Linked DNA regions of Homo sapiens: region 1 is reported to be linked to region 2. The links are microRNA targets in miRTarBase. Many come from high-throughput screens and were not tested one by one. Region 2 holds a microRNA gene; the other region holds the end of a gene's coding sequence.
The links. The annotated mature microRNA hsa-miR-376a-5p reads GUAGAUUCUCCUUCUAUGAGUA and lies in region 2 at 1,393-1,414, opposite strand. An mRNA with a match to its seed (bases 2 to 7 or 8) in the 3' UTR can be bound and repressed. Matches are read on the target gene's strand: a 7mer-m8 pairs with bases 2 to 8, a 7mer-A1 pairs with bases 2 to 7 and ends in A, and an 8mer does both.

Region 1 (3,248 bases), not on the chromosome of region 2:
GCCAAGCCTAAAATGTCACAGAAATTTAAACATGAACGCTTCTTGTTGTACAATGCCTTATGTGCCAAAAAGTGAACCAGGTTTTGTTACTGTTCTTAACTGCAGGATATGTTGCAGTATTACTTGAATCTGACAGAGGCGAATCTAAAGGGAGAGTCCATCTGGAAGCTGGAGTATATCCTGACCCAGACCTACGACATTGAAGATTTGCAGCCGGAAAGTTTATATGGATTAGCTAAACAATTTACAATCCTAGACAGTAAGCAGTTTATAAAATACTACAATTACTTCTTTGTGAGTTATGACAGCAGTGTAACATGTGATAAGACATGTAAGGCCTTTCAGATTTGTGCAATTATGAATCTTGATAATATTTCCTATGCAGATTGCCTCAAACAGCTTTATATAAAGCACAATTACTAGTATTTCACAGTTTTTGCTAATAGAAAATGCTGATTCTGATTCTGAGATCAATTTGTGGGAATTTTACATAAATCTTTGTTAATTACTGAGTGGGCAAGTAGACTTCCTGTCTTTGCTTTCTTTTTTTTTTTCTTTTTGATGCCTTAATGTAGATATCTTTATCATTCTGAATTGTATTATATATTTAAAGTGCTCATTAATAGAATGATGGATGTAAATTGGATGTAAATATTCAGTTTATATAATTATATCTAATTTGTACCCTTGTTGAAATTGTCATTTATACAATAAAGCGAATTCTTTATCTCTAAATATGATGAAGTTTTCTTAACATGATAATTTTTAGTTAAAATCTGTGTATTAACTGAGGTCCAAATTGTTTACCTCTCATATGTAAACAGATGTTACCACTGTTTACATGCACTATCTACTCTTGGGAAAATACCATGGTCATTAGGAGCATGCTGAAACATCACAGGGCATGTATTGCCTAGCTTTCTTCATTCTGAGTCTTTGGCATTGCTAACTTTTAAGGATGAGAATGTCACACATACTTATTGTATCTGCAGTACTAGCACAAGGCCTGGGTCCTAGTCCAGTGCCTGGCACCTAGTAAATAATTGTTGAAATGAATTGAAAGCTGTGAATATTTTTCAAAGAAACGTCCTAGATTACAGTGGTGGCATTTTCTTTGTCACAGTATTCCAGGATAGGATAAAAATGAGCCTTTTATTTAATGGGATTGTTTTTAGGACTCCAATGGCTCAAGCTGTTTTCTGCTTTCAGGTTAAGTAGGAGAATTAAAGTAGAAATGGAAGGGAGAGTGGGAGGGACTGGGGGATTTAAAGGAAGAGAAGATTGTATATCCCAACACTGGCATAGTGGAGAAGACTGTTAAAGAAAAAAAGCTCATCATGACACTTGTTAAAGATGTTAAGGCAGATGTTATCCAAGGTAGGCCATAGTGGTAGGTATAGGGACCACTGCAATGGAATCCTGCAGTGAGGGAGAGAGAGTGGACTCAGTTCTGACTTCAACAAGGCTGAGTGGGGATTTATAACCAAGGAGCAGAGTGGGGATCAGTGAATGGAAAATTACCAGGAGGAAAAACATCAAAGGTAAGAGGTTTCTGGCTATTACCAGGAGGAAAAACATCAAAGGTAAGACGTTTCTGGCTATACCAACTTGATAGGATTATTGCCGAAGGCAGGCCAGTGTGATAGGATATCAAGGGCGGTCAGATACCAAGGGTGGGGCATTCTCCCTAAGCCAACTTAACAGGATTCTTGCTCAAACTGGATCCTGCAAGAACAAAGGAAGCCCAATGTTGGCCTAGTCAAGCAGAGGAATTGGAGGAGCCTGACTAAAGTTTTGGTCAAAAGAGAGAGTCTTTGTCAAGACATAAAATGAGCAACCTTAGATTGAGGAGAATGGAACTCATCATCCTTGTGACTGGCTTGACTTCATGTATTAAAATGACTTTTTGATGTAACATTGCATAATAATGAAACCAAATTATCCTGATTTCCAGAGAGCTAATAAAATAAGTATTACAAAACAAAGATATCATATCTAGGAAACAATCATGATTCATTAGGTAAACTTTCTTTTAAAATTTTTACTTTTTAGTTTTCAACAAACAAATTAGTATGTTTTAAAAGTGAGAATGCTGAAACAAAGCAAATTTTGTTATAAAGTAGTCACATCATTTAGAAAACTTCATGCCTGCAATAATATTTAAAGTTGGTATTTTCAGATGACTAGATTGTGTATTCATACTTTTTTAATTTTTAATTTTCCTGAGTACATAGTAGGTGTATATATTTATGGGGTACATGAGATATTTTGATACAGGCATGCAATGCGTAATAATCACATGAAAAATGGGGTATCTATACTCTCAAGCATTTATCCTTTGTGTTACAAACAATCCAATTATACTATTTTAGTTAGTTAGAAATATACAATCTTCATCTATTCTTATACTTACGGACAGAGGTTCTAAGAAAACAAATTTGCAACATGTAGGAAAATTTAGAAACAGTGAAAAGCAGATATGGTTTTAGCTGACTTGGAAAATGAGTCCGAGCACTGGAAATGGTTGCAGCGTTATTGTGGAGAAAATTTCTGCATCTGTTGGGGGTTTGGGGCAGTGAATATTTAGGGTCTATCCTACTTTATTCTAGAGTTTTTACATTTTTAATTACACATTTTTGTATTCAGTTTACTTTCCTCTTGAAATATAAATGATTTTAAAATCTGAGTGACATTTAGGGACATTATCAACAGTTAAATTGATGTTTCCATTGTAAAACCAGAGCATGTTACAATTATTTATTGTGGTTTATTTCAGATTATGTTCAAATAAATTATGAATTTTATTATGTCCACAGTAAAACTTATCTTAATTTGCCTCTGTTTATTGGTGGTGCTTTGGCAAATTCATAAACTGTATCCTGTTTAGATATAGACACTGCTACTTTGAAGATGGTTTTGAATGAACATTAACCATATATTGGTAGGAAAAAAGGGGGCCGGGAGCGGTGGCTCACACTTGTAAGCCCAGCACTTTGGGAGGCTGAGGCGGGCAGATCACGAGGTCATGAGATCGAGACCATCCTGGCTAACACGGTGAACCCTCATCTCTACTAAAAACACAAAAAATCACCTGGGCGTGGTGGCGGGTGCCTGTAGTCCCAGCTACTTGGGAGGCTGAGGCAGGAGAATGGCATGAACCCAGGAGGCGGAGTTTGCAGTGAGCCAAGATCCTGCCACTGCACTCCAGCCTGGGCAACAGAGGGAGACTCCCTCTCAAAAAAAAAAAA
Region 2 (3,300 bases):
ATGGAGAGTGGGTAGACCAGATGACCCACATCTACATTAGACATTGACTTTGCTGACGGTCATTCTTTCATGTATCTGGGAGATGCACTGACCACGAGACCTCTTCTCAGAGGCTGGCATCATGCTGGGCAGACCTGCCGGAGTAGCAGCCCATGGATGCTTTGTGATAAGTAGGGCCCATCAAGGGAGGCCCTTTGTTCTTTTCTTTTTTTTTTAACCTATTGTGTTGAGACAGGGGTCTCTGTCAGCCAGGCTGAAGTGCAGTGGCACAATCTTGGCTCACTACAACCTCCCAACTCCCGGGCTCAAGTGATCCTCCAGCCTCAACCTCCTAAGTACTGGGACCACAGGCGCACACCATGACACCCAGCTAATTTTTGTATTTTTTGCAGAGATGGGGTTTCGCCAAGTTGCCCACGCTAGTTTCGAACTCCTGGGCTTAAGCCATCCACCGTCTCAGCCTCCCAAAGGGCTGGGGTTACAAGCGTGAGCCACCGTGCCCGGCCAAGGTAGGCCCTTTTTGCTAGGCAGAACAGGTGGTCTGAAGAGAAAACCCTATATCATCTCCAAAGCCAGCATCTCTTCCAGAAAGTTCTTGGAAGGAAGCATGAGATGAGGAGGGTCAGAGAACCAGGTCACAAACAGCAAGACAGAGGCACATGCCCTGTGGTCAACCATCCACACCCCAGGGCTATCCTGGCCATCTAACAGGTTGCTGGAGTCAGCCTTGTTCCCAAGAAGGCTTCCCAGGCAGGATTTGCTCCCCAGAGAGAGTCTGCCCTTGTATAATCATTGCAAGTAAAGCAAATGCGTGAAGGATTACCTCTCTTCAAGTAGCAAATGATGGCAGTGACAGGAAGGCCATTTCCTCTGTGACTAAGTTGCCACCAGCTCCAGGAGCAAGCCTTAGAGACACAGATGGGATCTGCATGGTGAGAGCAGCACACCGAGGTGTGAAGTGCAGGCCCGTGGGTGAATCACACATCTATTCCTTCCATAGCCCCTGAAGCAGTGCCCCTTCCTGAAATTGACAGCCCACTCAGGTATTCTCTAAGGTACAACTAGTCACAGTAAAAGAGGTTCATTCCAGAAAATGCATTGCAATCATGGTAAACATACAGAGAACAAACTTCATTCAAGGTCAATGAGGCAATACTGAGAACACAGCCTTGTAACAACACATTATGTGTGCACCAAGGGCAGTGAGCAAACAGCAGAGAAGCTGACGGCGTATTTCATACAAAGTACAATTCTGTGTCTGTCCGTCCTGTACCCAGGAGGGGTACAGATAACATCTCCTCTTCCATGGCGACTTCACGTCCTCCGAGGTTTTCAAAGCAGCATTTGATACTGAAAACGTGGATTTTCCTCTATGATTAATCATAAATAATGTACTCATAGAAGGAGAATCTACCTTTTAAATACCAAAGAAGGATTCCATCCAGGAAAGCGTGCACCTGTGCTTGAGTCATCAGAAAAGAAAGTCACATGAGGCAGACGAGCTTCCAGGGAAGAACTGGCACCACGAGACCCACAATTTAATCTTCACCAAGTTGGCGTCTCGAGATGGTTCTCGGGCATACCCCGTTCATTCAGATACGACGTGCGGCCTACCATCTTTGCACCTACTCAGGCCCTACGGTCTCTTCCAGAAACATTTCCAAAGCAGCATTTGATACTGAAAACATGGATTTTCCTCTATGATTAACCAGGAATCACGTAAACATAGAAGGAATATCCACGTTTTAAATACCAAAGAAGGACTGGGCTCTGGAAAGGACAAATCTGAACACAGTTCATGGAAAATGGAAGCAAGACAGTAAAGCAACCGTTTTCAGTCCCGTAGCATAGCTGTGACAACACACCACAGCCTGTGCACCAAGCTGGCTCCTCAGCGAAAGGGGGCTTCTAAAGGTGATGGTCAGCAGACATATGGCACGAACTCAGCACATGTTCTGCGGCCCACCATCTTTCCACTTACCCTGGAGGGCTCAGCCCCACCTCACGTCCCTGATGGTGGCTTCAGTCCAGCCATGATCCCAAGGCAGCATTTGATACTGAAAACGTGGATTTTCCTCTATGATTAACCATCAAACACGTAACCATAGAAGGAAAATCTACCTTTTAAATACCAAAGAAGGTTTCATCCCGGAAAGCACGAACCTAAGTACAATCCATCAAACACAAAAGTAACATAGCACAGAGGAGAGCATTCGGCCTCATGGAGAAAATGACGACGGAGCCCAGCCGCTTGGCCGAGCGGGCAGCTTGCGAGAGGGGTCTCCTCAAGGCGGGTGGGTGGTCCGCAGACATATGGCACGAATTCAGCACATGTTCTGAGGTCCACCGACTTTCCACTTACCCTGGAGTGGGGGGGGGGACTTTATTGTCTCTTCCCTGATGGTGGTTTCAGTCCAGGAATGTTTCCAAGCAGCATTTGATACTGAAAACGTGGAATTTCCTCTATGTTTAACCATAAATAACATAAACATAGAAGGAATATCCACCTTTTAAATACCAAAGAAGGATTGAGTCCTGGAAAGCATGAACCTAAGCACAATCTATCAAAATTAAAGACAGCACAGGATAGGTGCAGTCGGCAGGGGCCTCCCGGGCTAGCGGCAGTGACATGGGCCCTGCGGAGGACGCATGTCCCAGGACAGACCTTGCTAACAAGAGCTTAGGTTCTGGGATTCACCTTCCATCACTCTCCGCATGGGGGAGGGAGCTAACCTTCCTCTCAGAAATGTTCAGAAATGTTTTAAAAGCAGCCTTAGATACTGAAAATGCGGATTTTCCTCTATGATTCACCATAAATCCTGTAAGCATAGAAGGAACATCCACCTTTTAGATGGGAAAAGTGGGAACAGCCCTGGAGAGCACAAACGCAAACATGATTCATGAAAGACAGAAGGTAACAGAAGCAGGTGAGCACTTTGCGAGTCCCACGTGGGAAGCGCAGGGCCCACCCCTGGCCTCTTCACATCCAGAGATGGAACTCCTATGCAGGCAAACGTAAGTTTGGGGTCTGCCCTGCTGTCACTCGTCTGGGTGGGGGTAACCCTAATGTCTCTTCCCTAATGGAGGCTTCATGGTCAAGAGCGTTTCCAAAGTAGCATTTAATTCTGAAAAAAAAAAAAAAAAAAAGTGAATGTACATCAAAAATTTGCCACAAGTAAAGCAGGCAAAGTAGGGATTCTATGCTTTGAATTCGAAAAATATCAAAAACAAAAAGAAAATAAGCCTGTCAGGTTCCTAAAGTCACATCGCCTCCATGAAGCCCTCCCAAGGCACCTAATG

Region 1: the mRNA of SMPDL3A is a reported target of hsa-miR-376a-5p. The part of its 3' UTR that is shown has no 7-base or 8-base seed match.

The regions. Positions count from the first base shown.
Region 1 is chr6:122,808,986-122,812,233 of GRCh38, forward strand. SMPDL3A (sphingomyelin phosphodiesterase acid like 3A) reads left to right here. Exons shown (of 8, transcript NM_006714.5): 8 at 106-735. The coding sequence ends at 423. Among named protein-coding and RNA genes, the nearest start is that of SMPDL3A, 21 kb to the left of the region's middle.
Region 2 is chr14:101,038,902-101,042,201 of GRCh38, reverse strand. It overlaps MIR376A1 (microRNA 376a-1), which reads right to left and starts at 1,420; the gene lies at 1,353-1,420. It overlaps MIR376C (microRNA 376c), which reads right to left and starts at 2,512; the gene lies at 2,447-2,512. It overlaps MIR376A2 (microRNA 376a-2), which reads right to left and starts at 2,133; the gene lies at 2,054-2,133. MIR654 (microRNA 654) reads right to left here and starts at 1,983; the gene lies at 1,903-1,983. It also overlaps MIR376B and MIR300.